Linked DNA regions of Homo sapiens: region 1 is linked to region 2. The links come from fine-mapping of genetic effects on gene expression. Tissue or cell type: whole blood. Region 2 holds a variant in brackets; the other region holds the start of a gene. All regions are shown on one strand. Distances are from middle to middle.

The links. PIP is the estimated chance that this variant, and not a neighbour inherited with it, causes the effect.
Region 1: CDC42EP1 starts here. The variant in region 2 is fine-mapped to the expression of CDC42EP1 in whole blood (INTERVAL, PIP 0.98).

Annotation. Positions count from the first base shown.
Region 1 is chr22:37,556,753-37,564,494 of GRCh38, forward strand. CDC42EP1 (CDC42 effector protein 1) reads left to right here and starts at 3,728. Exons shown (of 3, transcript NM_152243.3): 1 at 3,728-3,836. RefSeq lists enhancers at 4,364-4,970, 4,971-5,578, 5,047-5,276, 5,579-6,185, 6,713-7,213 and 1 more.
Region 2 is chr22:37,471,436-37,479,177 of GRCh38, forward strand. MFNG (MFNG O-fucosylpeptide 3-beta-N-acetylglucosaminyltransferase) reads right to left here. Exons shown (of 8, transcript NM_002405.4): 5 at 5,461-5,546; 6 at 3,077-3,242; 7 at 1,008-1,093. Among named protein-coding and RNA genes, the nearest start is that of MFNG, 11 kb to the right of the region's middle. The variant G/A (reference allele first, on the strand shown) is at 4,789.

The DNA.
Region 1 (7,742 bases), 85 kb after region 2:
CTCCATAGACTGCTCCCTGCCCAGGACCTGCCTCCTTCCCTTAGGCCCCTTGCCTTGGCCAACCCAATCTGCTGGGCTGAGTGGAGGGGGCAGCTGAGCCCTGGGACTATAGCCTGAGGAGCCTGGTTCCTTCAAGACAGGGAGGTAGGGGATCCTGAGCTCTGGGCGGTTGGTTCACCTAGCAGCTCCCCGTCCCCAGCTGGGAGGCATTTGTTCTGCATTCTGCACGATGATTACAGCCCTGCCAAGGTTAACCCCTGCACTCCTGGGCACAGCCTCTCAAAGGGAAGGAAGGGGACCGCAGGAAATTGGGGGAGGAGAAAAGCATGATAAAGGGAGACTGCCCAACCCTGGATCCTTCTTGGGGATATTGAAACTTCTCCCTTTCTCCCGTTTTCCAGAGGGAAAAACTGAGTCAGATCCTTAAATCAGGAGTGGAGCCAGGAACAAGGGCACAGCCTACATGGAGATAGGTTTCTATCTGGAGGCAGGCTGCAAAGGAGGGAGAGGGCTCCTCTCTGCCTCAGCTTACCCAGATGTAAAAGGGGGCAAGAATTCCTGATTCACAGGTTGCCTGTCAATGAGCTGGAGAAGACAAAGCGTGTGGCATATATAGTAGGGAGGTTCTCAACCTCTTGTTCTTTCCTGCCTGCCCTCCCTGCCCGCGGGTGAAGAAGATGGAGCAAGCATGGGGCAGGTTGTAACCACTTCCATCAGGACTGCTTGCTCAGTCATCTGCCTGGGGCTCACAACACCCCAACTAGTAAATACCCACACTGCTATTATACCCATTTCAGAGATGAGAAACTTGAGGCTCAAATGGGCCAAGTGCTTTGCCCACGGTCAGCCACTGGGCCAGGATTTGAGCTCAGGGCCTTTGACATTGCACCAGACTGCCTCCTTTACCAGCCGCTCTAGGGATCCTCTGACTAGAGTGACGTGTAATTGATTGTCTAACCAGGTCACCTTTGAGAATGAAAGGAAGTGCTATTAATAATTACACTGGAACAGTATGTGTAATCTGGGCTGTCCTAGGCAAACTGGAAAGTATGGCCATCCTGCCAAAGTAGGGAGCTTTACGCAAATCACTTCACTTATCTGCAAAAGGGACACCATGGCAGGACTTTCCCTATGGGGCTCTCACAAGAATTAAATGTCATAATGCATGTTAATGAGCTACAGGACCTGGTATGCATCAGGTGCTCAATAAGTGCTGGTTACTACTGATGCTATTAATAGTAATAACCACAGTAGCACTAGTTCTTTGTTTCCATCACTGTCCTTCCAGTCCATTCTTCACTCACAGTCAGATTTCTATTTTGTTTTTTGTTTTTTTGAGATGGGGTCTCGCTCTGTCGCCCAGGCTGGAGTGCAGTAGCACGATCTCAGCTCACTGTAACCTCCGTCTCCCAGATTCAAGCAATTCTCCTGCCTCTGCCTCCTGAATAGCTGGGATTACAGGCGCCCACCACTATGCCCGGCTAATTTTTGGTATTTTTAGTAGAGACAGGATTTCACCATGTTGGCCAAGCTGGTCACGAACTCCTGACCTCAAGTGATCTGCTCGCCTCGGCCTCCCAAAGTGCTGGGATTACAAGTGTGAGCCACCGCGCCCGGCACTTTTTTATTTTTATTTTTTAAGATGGAGTCTCGCTCTGTTGACCAGGCTGGAGTGCCGTGGTGCGATCTCAGCTCACTGCAACCTCCGCTTCCCAGGTTCAAGCAATTCTCCCTGCCTCAGCCTCCCGAGTAGCTGGGATTACAGGCACCCGCCACCACGCCTGGCTAATTTTTGTATTTTTAGTTGAGACGGAGTTTTACCATATTGGTCAGGCTGGTCTCAAACTCCCAGCCTCAAGTAATCTGCCCACCTCAGCCTCCCAAAGTGCTGGGATTACAGGCGTGAGCAACCACGCCGGGCAACAGTCAGTCTTCTAAATGTACACCTGCCAGTGCTGCCTGCTGGCTCACTGTCCTGATGCTGTTCCAGTTCTCCATGGGACAAAATACTCCTGGGCCGGCCCCCAGGGAAAGAGTTCCTACTGCTGTGCCACTTGAGCAAATGCTAGAATGCTTTGTGCCTCTGTTTCCTCATTTGTCCAGCTGCAGAAATAGCTCCTTCCCTTGGTGGCCAGCATGGGGATTCAGGGAGCCAGTGGAAGAGGCCTAGCCCCTGGGTGAACAGTAAAGACCTTGTCTCCTCCACCTGCGGGTAAATACAGCTCCTCATCCCCGGCCACAACAGCGCTCAGCCAGTCTCCTTCAGCCGGGTTTGCCTCCGCTGCAGGGTCCTCCACTCCCAGCCTTTGCTGTGCTGTCCCTTGCCAGCTGTGCACTGTGCATTTCCACTGCCCTTCCCTCTGCCTACACGTCCTTTAAGACTTAACTCACAACCATGCAGTGGCTCACACCCATAATCCTAGCACTTGAGGAGGCCAAGGCAGGCGGATCACCTGAGGTAAGGAGTTCAAGACCAGCCTGGCCAACATGGTGAAGCCCCCTCTCTACTAAAAAATACAAAAATTAGCCGGGCGTGGGTGGGTGCCTGTAATCCCAGCTAGTCCGGAGGCTTAGGAGGGAGAATCGCTTGAACCCGGGAGGTGGAAGCTGCAGTGAGCTGAGATCATGCCATGGCACTCCAGCCTGAGCAACAGAGAGAGACTCCGTCTCAAAAAAAAAAAAAAAAAAAAAAAAAAAAAAAAAAAAAAAAAAAAGAGAGAGAGAGAGACTTAACTCAGGTATCATCTCCTCTAGGAAGATTTCCTGAGCCCCCAGGCCCTGCAGGAAGTATTAGGGACCTCTCTGTGCCCTGACAGCCCGAGGACTCTATAGTCAGATGGGAGTAGTCAAAGGAGGGCACAACAACGGGAGGCAGGGGCCAGAGATCTATCTCCCCTCCTTGAGGATGGCACAGGGTCCCGGGTATGGCTGATTCCCTGCCCTCCATGGAGGTGGGCGGGGTGGGGGGAGGGTCTGTAAAGTCTCTGAGATGCGACTTCATTTACCTGCCGAGCAAGCCTCCTAGGTGCTCTTGGAGCAGGAAACACTTCACACAACATCTGATGCTGCTATTATCTATCCCACTTTCAGATCAGGAAACTGAGGCAGAGAAAGGTAAGTAGTGACTGAGGCAGGACAGGAGCCCAGGCTGTCCGGCTCCAGGGTCCCGGTCTTGACGGCCACTCTACCCCACTCTACCAGTCGCCCCAGTATGGCTGTCTTCCTCCTGGGCACCGCGGGGCCTGTACCGGATGGAAGGGAATGAGAATGGGGAGCAAAGGAGTGGGCATGTCATGCCTGTAAACATCAAGGTTTAAAGGCCCAGGCATTCAAGGCCTCAGATCGAGCTTCCCGGTTCCCCGAACTCCCGCAGGGCGCGGCTGGAGGGCCCAGGAGGGAGGAGAGTTCATCAGGCCTGGACGCCCCAAGCAAGGCCACGAGGGGAACCGGTGGAAGAGGGGTTGGCGGCCGGGGACCGGAGTCGCCTCCCCGGGGCAGCCCGCACGTTCCCCGGCTGGCCTTGTCCGGGGTGGCGAGCAGAGGCCTGGCCTGGCCCCCCAGCCGCGTCCCTGCCAGCTCTCGGCGGCCGCGAGGACGGTGCCGGGGAGGGGGCCGGGGAGGGGGCCGGGCCCCGCCCGCGGGCGGGAGGAGACGGGCGGGAGGCGGGAGCGCCCACACCCCGCCCCCGCCCCCGGATCCAGCCCGCGGAGCCCGCGGCCAGGGCGGCGCAGACCGGCCCAGCGACTCTCCCGGGCTGCCAGCCGGGACGCGCGGCCGCCGCCGCTGCAGACGACGAGTCCGCCCTCGTCCCGCGCCCCCGGGGCTCGCGGAGCCAGGTAACAGCCCGGGCGCGCGGGTCCTCGGGGCGGAGGCCGTGGAGGCCGGCGGGTCCCGGCGCCCGCGGGGACTCTGCACCCTACTAGGCTCCCGGGGCCGGAACGGGGACGGGACCCGCCCGGGAGAGGCGCCCCCGGGTGCCCACAGGAAGGCCGGGCGCGGCCGCGGAGCCGCGCGAGGAAACTCCGAGCTTTCGGGCTTCGTGTCCCGTTCCAGGCTGGTGGAGGGGGCAGAGGATCGGACACGGCTGAGCGGCCAAAATGCGCGAGGAGGGGGCGAGCCGAGGGGCAGAGCGGGGGCTGTCTCCGCGCCTTCCTGCGCGGGGGAAGGAAGGGCCGGGGCGGGCAGCGGGCGACGCGGCGGAATGTCTCCCCTCCGCCGAGGCCCACGCGGAGAGCGGGAAGTGGGGGGTGGGGGGCCCGGGGAGATGGACAGGCACCCTGCCCCCCTCCCCGACCGCCGCATTCCAGGCTGGAGCCGCGGATGAGGTCATCCCGTCCGGTTCCCCTCCGGCCAAGACAGCCGGTCGTCCCCTTCCCCCGCGGAGCGACCCTCCGCGTCCTGAGCCCCGTCCCCCCAGGGAATGTTGGATGGCCGAAGTCTTTCCCGGACTTCCAATCCCGGCCGCCCTCCAGATTGTTCTGCCTTTGCCCCAGCAGTGCCAGACCCGCAACATTCGAAGCCCTTTTCCTAGACCGGGAAACTGAGGCTTAGAGAGTAGGGGGGACTGGCCGGGAGGCCGCAGCGGCACTAAACGTGGCGCGGGGACCCGAGACGCGGCCCGCAGCCGCTCCGTCTCGCTCGGTCCCGGGCTGGTTCGGCTCTAACTCGGGGCGGTGGGCACGAAGCGCGTCTCCTTTCCACTTTCCCCGTCGCTCCCTAATGGCCCACGGTGCCCCCCTTGGAATACGGAGGACCGGGTCCCCTAGCGCGACTGCGAACAACTAGCTACCCCGTTCTGGCCTCAGTTTCCCCGTCTCTCCACCTTGAAGCGTCTGGACTTTGAGGAGCAGGAGAAGTCAGCCGACCGGTTTAACCCCTTATTCCAGGGACCAGAGCAGGTTTGGGGGAGCTGCCGTAACCATGACAGGGACCCGCTGTCCAGCGGTGGGGGGGGGCGTCACCCAGCTGGATGCCCGCAGGAAGTGGGCTGTGTGCACCCGAGCAGTGGCCTCCAGGATGAGACGTGGGCCCCTGGCCAGCACTGCGGCCTGCGGGTGACCCCCAGGTGAATGCCAGGGTGCAGCCGCCCCCGCTCTCCTTCAGACCCGCCCTTGGCCTCCCCGCGACCACATGTGCCTCCACAGCGACCCCTGTTGGCCCGATCCCGGCTCCAAAACTTGTTCTTGCGTCATTCCCACCATTGAGTGAGCTCAGGCCATGTGCCCAGGCCCTGACTATCCTCTATAGGGTAAATATAAGGACTCCAAGGACACTGAGGCTGTGTGGTGACCTCCTTGCCCAGGTCACAGGCAGTGAATCTGCAGAGCTGGGTCTCCTGTCTTCCCAGGCCTGCACCTGCACCCCACACCGGGCTCAGCACTGGGCATCCAAGCCCTCCAAATCGTCTTCCCCATTCCCCATCGTCTTCACCCCCACCCTGGGGCATTTACCAGCAATGTTGGTCTGTGACTGAGGGTAAATGTCTCCTTTCTGAGCTTCGTTTTTTCCATCTGTGAAAGGGGTGTTCTGAACACTAACGGGCGGTGTTCCTGAGCAGGTGAGGGGAGGTGAGCCTGGCACCAGGACACTTGGAGCCCTGCTTACTCCAGTGCCAGGTGAGGCACACCTGATGGCCAGCAGTGCCCTGTGGTTGGCAGCAAGTGCCACGTGGCTGCCACCGGGGTCCCTGGAATGAGAGATGTTAGTGTAAAGGTGTCAGATTTGAACCCATGGCTGCCCTGCTCCAGTATCTGAGGGTTTCATTACATTTTCTACCCTTGCAACTCCCCTGGGAGGGGAACTGCCTGGTGTGCTGTTCCGTTTTCCACATGGGAAGACCGGGTCCCAATACCCTGCCCTCAGCTCCACAGCGCTGCAGAGTCTCTCGACCGCAGTAGGCAGGGTAGTGTGAGGGGTGGGTACTATTGGGGGGGTGCCCAGAAACATTTGAAAGATGGGATCATCGCAAGATTGGGGAGGAAGCTGGTCCCCCAAGTCAAAAGTGACCATGGGGGTTCAGGGGGGAGGAGCCCCTTTTGCTGGGAGATGAGGTGCTGCCTCAAGAAGTCAGGGAGGCCAGGTGTGGTGGTTCACACTTGTAATCCCAGCACTTTGGGAGGCTGAGGCAGCAGGATGGCTTGAGTTCAGGAATTTGAGACCAACCTGGGCAATGGAGTGAGACCCTGTCCTTACAAAAAGTGGAAAAACTTAGCTGAGCATGGTGGTATGTGCCTGTAGTCCCAGCTACTCAGGAGGCTGAGGTGGGAGGATCGCTTGAGCCTGGGAGTTCGAGGCTGCAGTTAGCTGTGATGGAGCCACTGCACTCAGCCTGGGTGACAGAGTGAGACCCTGCCTCAAAAAAGAAAAAAAAAAAAGTCAGGGAGCTGGGGTGGGAGCAAGTGGGTAAGGCCACATGGCAGACCCTTCTACAGGACATTGTACAGAGGAACACCCTTCCCGCTCCCATTCCTTCCCCCAGAGATGCATCCTTAATCCCTGCTGAGCAGGGAAACTTGGCCCTGCCATGAACCTGTCACTTAACCTTGGACAGGTCTCCCTTCCCTCCGAACCTCAGTGCTGCCTGTCAAATAGGCCACGCTGCGGCTTTGCAGGGTTGTTGGAGAATCAGATGACATCATGTAATGGTTGGCCAACTGTGGATCGCTTCAGAACTTCAGCAAACATTCCACGAGGACTTCTCGGTGCCGGGGGTGCCAGGGAGGGAAGAAGATGATTCAGAAGTTCCCCCCCACGAGGGGGAGGAGTTAGGGTTGGGGGAGGATCAGATGGTGGGAAGGGAAGAGAATGTAGTCAGAAAACAAAGCAAGCTTTGTCCTATTGGCTTCTTTGTTCTTATCTTGTTATTTAACCTATTTTGAATTTCAAATAACATTAGAAGGGCAGTATTGAGATTTCTATGCTTGGAGGTGGCAGCAATGGTTTTAAAAAAGGAAGAAGGCTGAGCCGCAGACATAGGTGTTCTTAAGGATCATTATTGACTTTTATCAGCTGAGGTCCCAGGTCTGTGTAGGTAAGTGACTTGCCCAAGGTCACATTGTGAGGACACAGAGCCCAGCCTGCCCTCCCACTCTCAGAAGGGGCCAGGGTGATGTTTTGGCATGCAGGTTATCATGGAGATCTGTGATTCAGCTGGCATTGATTTGGCACTTGTTAAGTGCAGAGCCCAAGCTAGATGCCCAAGGGAGAAAGGCAGGAAAATCCAGGCGGCCTCCCCACCCTCCAAGTGCATTGCCGATCTCGGGAGGCGAGACTGGGCTCCACAAGCCAGTCAAGGGCTTATGTGAGTCAGAGGCTCTGAGTTCAAGTCTCAACTAGCTCTGTGGATCTGACCTCTAGCCAGCTTTGCCCTCAGTGGGCCACAGGAAAAGCATAGGATCACAGGTGCGCTCTAGCCTGGACTTTGTATGACACTAGAAGGAAAGGGGTCAGAACAAGAGATGCTTAGAGAAGCTGGAGCAGGGGAGGATGTGTGTGTGTGTATGGTGGGGGTGGGGAATCAGGAAGGAGAGATGCACAAGAAATAGCTTTTGGCACCAGCTGAGCTTTTTCCAAAGCTTGCTCCCTGACAGCAAGGCTCCTACGTCAGTTTGACAAACTGTGATAAAGTCTTTTCCTGCGGGCCTTCTCAGAGACTTGAATATGCTCACGCATGGAGGAGGCAGCTGGAAAAAGCCACTTTTGACCACAGGATCCTTATTCCAGGAAGCTCCTTGAAGGTGGAT
Region 2 (7,742 bases):
TCAAGCATCAGTTCTGGGGTTGGACTGATGGGCCCAGAGTCCATGTGTCCCCTCCCCCAACTCCTCTCCACCCCCATCCCGCCACCCCTGGCCAGAATCACAAGCCATAGCTGGGCCGGGGGCAGCGGCTCATGCCTGTAATCCTAGCACTTTGGGAGGTCAAGGCAGGCGGATCACTTGAGGTCAGGAGTTCGAAACCAGCCTGGCCAACATGGTGAAACCCCGCCTCCACTAAAAACACAAAAATTAGCCAGGCATGGTGGCAGGCGCCTGTAATCCCAGCTATTCGGGAGGCTGAGGCAGAAGAATTGTTTGAACCCGGGGGGCGGAGGTTGCAGTGAGTCGAGATCGCACCACTGCACTCCAGCCTGGGCAACAGAGCGAGGCTCCATCTCAAAAAAAAAAAAAAAAAAAAAAAAAGCCACAGCTGGCAGGTGCTGGTGTGTGGAAAGGAAGCTGCATATCACAGGCTATGCTCCAAGACTGCTCTAGACCAGTCAGGAGCGGATTTGGGTGGCCCATCTCCCCGTGGCCAGTTCTGGGCAGAACTGGAAGGTGTTATTCCAACCCTTTACCTGCCTAAAAGAAGCATTTAAGAGTATCAAAGAAACAAGGAGTCCAAAAGAGATAAAATAAAAATCCCCCACCAGAGCCTGAAGTTCCACCATGAGAGCGTTGCCTGTGCTCAGGGAAGGCATTTCAGCCTTCCAGGGACTCCCAAAGAACCCCAGAGGATTGGGGCTGGGAGAGCTCTTCAGATCCATCATGGCCAGCCTCCAGGTGTTACTAATGGGAGACCGAATCCCAGAGAGGGCAAGACACTTGCCCAAGGTCACACAGCAAGCCAGTGGCAGGGTCAGAAACTGAAATCCACTCCCTCCACTCCTAGCTCTGTGCTGTCAGCCACCAAAGCCTGTCCCACTCCACTCCCTCCCAGCTCCCCCATGTTTGGATGCCTGGACTCAGCCCCCACTCCTCCCATCCAAGGTTCCAGCCCCCAGACCCACCTGGAGGGGTCCTCCTCCGGGGAGAAGGGGCCCTGTAGCTTAATGACGTTGAGTTTCCCCTCAAAGACACCGTAGCTGAGGGTGACCTGGGCAGGGAGATAGAAGAGTGTTGGGGCATCACACTGGGGATCCCCACAAGGGGGCAGCATCCTGGCACAGGTGGAGGAGGGGTTTTAAGCTGCAGGGAAAGCTGCCCGGGAACCTGAAATTCCCCGCTGGTGGTGGGAGCCCACCCCACGCCCCAAGGCACTTCACAGCTGGAAGAGCACTGCCATGCCCTTAATCCCATTTGCTCCCTCAAGAGTTGAGCTCCCCTGAGAAGCTGGAACAATACCCCCATCTACAGATTTGGAAACTGAGGCTCAACAGGAAAAGGCAGCTTTCCAGTAAGCTGCAAGCCTGGACTAGAATGGAGGTTTTCTGAGACTCACTGGAGGGCCTTGGCACATCCCTCTTCACCCGGAGCCCCTACTCCACCAGGCAGTGACGACATGGATCATGATTTCAGCTCAGAGGCTGTAGAGCACAGTGGTTAAAGACTGTGGGCATAGGGACCACCCAGCTAGGGTTCCAGTGCCCCTCTGCCCCATATTAGCTGTGTGCCGTGGTCAGTTCAGCTCGCTGGGTCTCATTTTCCCCATCTATAGAATGGGGATAATGTTAGTACTGACCTCATGTGACTACTGTGAGGAACCAGAGAGTTAAAGAAGGGTGGCTGGGTGCGGTGGCTCATGCCTGTAATCCCAGCACTTTGGAAGGCTGAGGCAGGTGGATTACTTGAGGTCAGGAGTTCGAGACCAGCCTGGCCAACATGGTGAAACCCTGTCTCTACTAAAAATAGCCAGGCATGGTGGTGGGTGCCTGTAGTCCCAGCTACTCAGGAGGCTGAGGCAGGAGAATCACTTGAACCCGGGAGGTGGAGGTTGCAGAGAGCCAAAATCGTGCCATTGTACTCCAACCTGGGCAACAGAGCGAGACTCTATCTCAAAAAAAAAAAGAAGGGAAGGACCCCAGTGTGGTGCCTGGCATTGTGGGTACTCAGGATACCCTAACCATTAGGATGCCCTGGTTTGGGCTGCCTCAAATCTGCCTCTCTTTCCTGGCTTCAGGCCCTGCCATCCTAATGGGACCAACCTCACACCCCAGTTCCAGGCCTGGCCAATCAACACTAACTCCAGGTGCTGGTAGGAGATGGGTCACCTGACCCAAGCCCAGTCATCAAATCAATGAACGCCAGCCCGGGGATCTGAAGGAAGGAGGCGCTCTCCTCCGATAGTGGGGGGAAAGCTGGGGCTGCCATCTTGCCAACATGAGGGCTGAGCCCACCTGAGGATGGGCCAACTTGGGGGAGAGCTTCTCAGTTATGTGAGCCAACAATTTCCTTTTCAGGTTAGCCAGTTCACGTTGAGTTTCTGTCACACTGTTGGGCAGGAGATCCCGGGGACGCTCCCAGCCAGGACCATCTACAGTGTCAGAGGGCAGCCTCTCCGAGGCAGAGCCAGTTGGACCTGTATCACCTGCCAGGTGGTGGGATGGGGTCCCCCTCCTCCCCCAGCCTAACATAATGCTGAGCGTCCCCCCAAAGACCCATTCCATCCCGGTAACCTCAGGGTTGGCAGGAACAGCACTGAGCAATGGATAGGGGAGTTTTGATGAAGGAAGGGGCTCCTAACAGGTAAAATTAGAAGAGCCAGCTGGGCTCCCCGGGAGGAATGTGGGGAGGATGGAAGACTGAGTAGAGGTATGGGTGGAGAGCAGGGTGGTGGGAACCTGAAGACAACCTCATCTCATTTGTTCAGGTCCTTCCCGGCATTTGAGGACCAGATCAAAGAATTTCAGCTTCACAAATGCTAATCCTTGAGGGTTAGAGGTGAAGGGGTTGAGTCCCTGTGTACCCTTAGGGTGTCCTTTGCCACCCTAGGCCTCAGTTTCCCCATCAATAGGGAATACCCAAGACCCATAATCTGGAGTTCCAGGTTTCTTTCAAACGCCAGGAGGGAGGGTTGGGGGGACCCCATGTTCCTTTGGTTCCCCTTCCCATTTGCCACCTGCCCCCAAGGCCAGCTCACCTGTTCTGGGAGCTGTGCAGTCCTCAGCAGCTGCAGGGTCTCCAGGTGGGAGTGAAAGAGGGGGCTGGGCTGCAGGCGGCCGCCCAGCTTGCACTCAATGATATAGCCCATGGTGCAGTCATCAGGCAGCCGGATGAGAGCAGATGTGTCCATGAAACGGGAGCCACTGAGGGACAGAGCCAGACTGCAGACGCTGGCCCAGGCCCTCCACACCCAGAGCCGTGGGCCACCCCATGAAGGCCCTCCACTGGGACAAGCTGGCAGAACAGAGCACCTGCCTCCTGCATACTGTATGACCTTGAGCAAGTCAGGAACCTTGGGGAGCCTCAGCCTCAGTCTCCTGTTCTGTGAAATGGGGATGCTAATGGCCGTGTCTTCGTGGAGCTGTCGTGAGGATTAAACAGGGAATGGGAAGGTGATGCCCTTTATAAATGTAGCCTTTCCTTCTCTCTCTGTCTTGTCATTCATTCATTCACTCATTTATTCATTGCTGGTGCCAGATACCATGCTAGGGCTGAGGATACAGAGATGAGAAAGAAACGCTTCCTGCCCCCAACAGCAGCCCCTATTCTGGCGGGAGACAGAGCAGGGAGCAGGTCTTTCAAAGAGTGGTGCTAAGTCAGAGGGAAGCATGCTGCCTGGGGGTACAGGGAGAATCAGGCGGGCTTTCCAGAGGAGGTGGCAGCTTTTTTGTGTGTTCATTTGTTTGTTTGTTTGTTTGTTTGTTTTTGAGACAGAGTCTCCCTTCATTGCCCAGGCTGGAGTGCAGTGGTGCAATCTCGGCTCACTGCAATCTCCGCCTCCTGGGTTTAAGCAATTCTCCTGTCTCAGCCTCCTGAATAGCTGGGACTACAGGCACCCGCTGCCATGCCCGGCTAATCTTTGTATTTTTAGTAGAGACAGAGTTTCACCACGTTGGCCAGGCTGGTCTTGAACTCCTAACCTCAAGTGAGTCACCCACCTCAGCCTCCCAAAGTGCTGGGATTACAGGCATGAGCCACCTAAACAGAGTCTTGCAGGATGGGCTGGAGTCAGCCAGTGCTGAGGGGAGACAGGAACAGAGTCCCAGGCATGGACTTCAACTGGCCGCGTATACCCCATTAATGCCGCTGCCCTGGATGCTTGTCCAAGGGGCAAGTGGGTGTGGAAATCCAGCCTGTACTCCCCTCCCCAGCCTGCACTCCCCTCCCCAGCCTGCACTCCCCTCCCCAGCCTGCATGCCCTCAAGCTGCACCTGCAGGAGTTGGAGGGAGAGGGCTTTTTCTAATTCACACAAAGGTAATTTAGAGGTGGGCAGAAGCCTGGGTGGGGGCACCCCAGGCACACGGATGACCCTGGTCATGTGTACACACACAGTTCTGTGGACATGCCCCAGGACAATGAGCCCGCTCTTGTCCAGTATGAATTGCCTGGGGCGCCCCTCCCAGCCAGGGCAAGGCAGGGCAGGCTTGGGTAGTAGCAAGGCTTGCAGACCTTGGAGCCAAACCCAGCAGCTGAGTGACCTTGAACCTGGCTGACCTCAGACTGGCTTAATCTCAGTGCCTCAGTTGCCTGAGATCTAGAAACAAGACTAATGCCACCTTCTCCCCCAGGTGTTGTGATCCTCTTGATGGAGCACAGAGCTGGCTCAGAGTCAGTCCTCAATACAAGGGAGTGGCTGCTGATGGTGCTGTTAATAATAATAATAGCCCGGAAAGACCTCCAGAAGCCAG[G/A]CCTCGCCACTTCTAGAACACCTGTGTCCCACCCCCACCCACACTGCGGCCTCCACTACCCCTGAGATCCCCTCATAATATTAGGAGTAATATCATCTCCCTTAGATGATATTATGAATAATATCACAGGATGTACACCCACTGTGCTATTAGGAGTAATATCATCTCCCTTAGATGGCCCAGTGTATAGTGGACTGTCCCAGCTCAAATACCACCTCTTCCTGGAAGCCTTCCCTTCTTCCCTCACCCAGAAGGCCCTTCTCCCTCCTCTGAAGACCCTTAGATTTGGCCTTCACCTCCCCTACGGCATTGACCAGTCAGAAAAGGGCGGTAAATAGCACCTACCAGGGCCAGCCCAGACATTTTCTCATTTAACCCTTACTACACCATTGGCCACTGCATTATCAGGTCCATGTGCCGACGGGGGGACTGGGGCTCTTGGAGATGACATGACTTGCCTGTGAGTGGCACGTCATGCGCTCAGCCGTGCAGCCCCTGAGGGCAGGTGGCAGGTGGCTTGTTCACCACCAACTGCCGCTCTGTGACACACGCAAATGAGGAGCAGCTTCTCCTGAGCTCACTCTCAAAGCCCTTCCTGCTGCAAAGGCCCCTCCTGTACCCCAGCTGCCACCCCCTCCCCGCCTTCCTGCCCACCCCTGGGTCTCTGCTTACCTGGCCCACGGAGCCATCTTCAAAGCCAGTTTGCGATTGATGCAGAAGCCAGCACCCCCAGTGGCAAACCAGAACTGTACCAGCCTCTGAGAGAGAGGAAGGCCAAGGGGCAGAGTGAGCCTGGTGGCAGTTGTGGGGAAAAGGGACAGCCAGGCCACCCTTCACCCCCAACCAGCATGGCTCAAAAGCCCTTTATTTTGAATCTCACTAGAGTCTTGCTACAACCTGGCATTATTGCACCCATTCTATAGATAAGAAAACAGAGGCCCGAAGTCACATAGTTAATTATGAGTGGTGAGGTCACTGATCAGACTCAAGTCCAGCTGAATTCCAGTTAAAGGGGACAGGTGTTGTTTTACCCACCCAGCCACCATGCCCCTTTCCCCTGAGAAAGGTCTCTACCTCACTCCATGTGGCTTGGGAGGGGCTGCCGAACATGGCACCTGCTCTCCTGGGCCACAGAGGTGGGCCTAGGTTGACGGGGCCTGAGTGTGCATAGGAAAGATGTGGCTGGGAAACAAAGGTCAGGCTGTGTCCAATACAAATCACTAACACTTTTTTTTTTTTAAGAGACAGAGTCTTGCTCTGTTGCCCAGGCTCAAGTGCAGTGGCACCATCTCTGCTCACTGCAACCTCCGCCTCCCAGGTTCAAGCGATTCTCCAGCCTCAGCTTCCCAAATAGCTGGAACTACAGACGTGCGCCACCACGCCCAACTAATTTTTGTATTTTTTAGTAGAGACAGGGTTTAACTATTTGTTGGCCAGGCTGGTCTCAAACTCCTGACCTCAGGTGATTCACCTGCCTCGGCCTCCCAAAGTGCTGGGATTACAGATATGAGCCACCGCGCCCGGCCTCAGATCACTAACACTTTCTAGTGTTGACTTCGTGCCAGGTCTCATTCCAAGGACTTGGAGAGATGACCTCATTTCATTCTTTCTTCTGTGTTCACGACCACTCTTTGAGTAGGGGCTGTTATCACCCATTTCACAGATTAGGAAACTGAGGCACAGAGAGGTGAGGTGACCTCAGTCAAGGTCACAAAGCCAGGAGGTGGCAGGGCTGCCGTGTAAACCCAGGGAGTCAGGCTCCAGCGTGCAGTTCTCCACCCCAGAGGCAAACTGCTTAGGCAGAGGTGAGTCGCCAGCAGTGAAGTGGTGTGAGAGCCTGGGGGACCCCCTGGCTCCCCTGGAATCACTCATACACAGAGCCCTAGGGCCCAGAAGAATTTAATTAAGGCTCAGAGGCTGATTAGCTACTGATAATTAAGGCTCTGTGTTTTCTGCTCTTGGTTTTCCTAATGAAGCAGATGGGGACCTGGGAAGGGAGGTTGAGCCCCGCTGTGTGCCCAGCTCCTGCACCAGGCACTGCCTCTAGAGAGGGACCTCCCGATCTGCCTTCTTCCTGGAGCCAAGGGAGCCCTAGGGCCAGGACCACTCTAACACCTGATGCCCAGGGGGTCCTGGGGACAGGGAGAGAACCATGCAATATTTGGGACATACTTATACTAAAAATTTCCTCATTATTTATGAGAAAGTCAAGTTTAACTGGATGTAGTGGTTTTTCATTTATTTGTTTAATGAATCTGGCAACCCAAATCAGTGTCCATCCAGGTCAGGAACTGAGGCGGGTACAGAGCCCCCTGTTTTGCCAGGTGTCGACTCTTCAGTCACAGGCTAGTGGAGGTGTCTGGAGGGAGAGGGTGCCCCAGGAGGGGAAGGTGGGGAAGGGTTCTGGGGCTCAGGTGGCAGCAATCACCCAGCCCCACAGTATTCAGCAATTTTTTTTTTTTTTTTTGACGGAGGGACGGAGTCTCGCTCTGCCGCCCAGGCTGGAGTGCAGTGGCACAATCTCAGCTCACTGCAACCTCCGCCTCCTGGGTTCAAGCGATTCTCCTCTCTCAGCCTCCCGAGTAGCTGGGACTACAGGTGCCCGCCACCATGCCCAGCTAATTTTTGTATTTTTAGTAGAGACGGGGTTTCACCATATTGGTCAGGCTGGTCTCGAACTCTTGACCTCAGGTCACCCACCCACCTCAGCCTCCCAAAGTGCTGGGATTACAGGCATGAGCCACTGCCCCCAGCCATTCCAGCATTTTAACAACCTGCACACCTACATGGGGACACCAGGTGACTGGGAGCCCTGCTGTGGTGTCACACAGCCTCAGCTCACCTGGATGCTCCCTGAGTGACCAGGACAAGCCGTGGTTCCTGGGGGATGGAGGCCTCACTATGTACTGTGTCTGTGCCACGACTGCATGATCTCAGTCTCCCCATTTCACAGA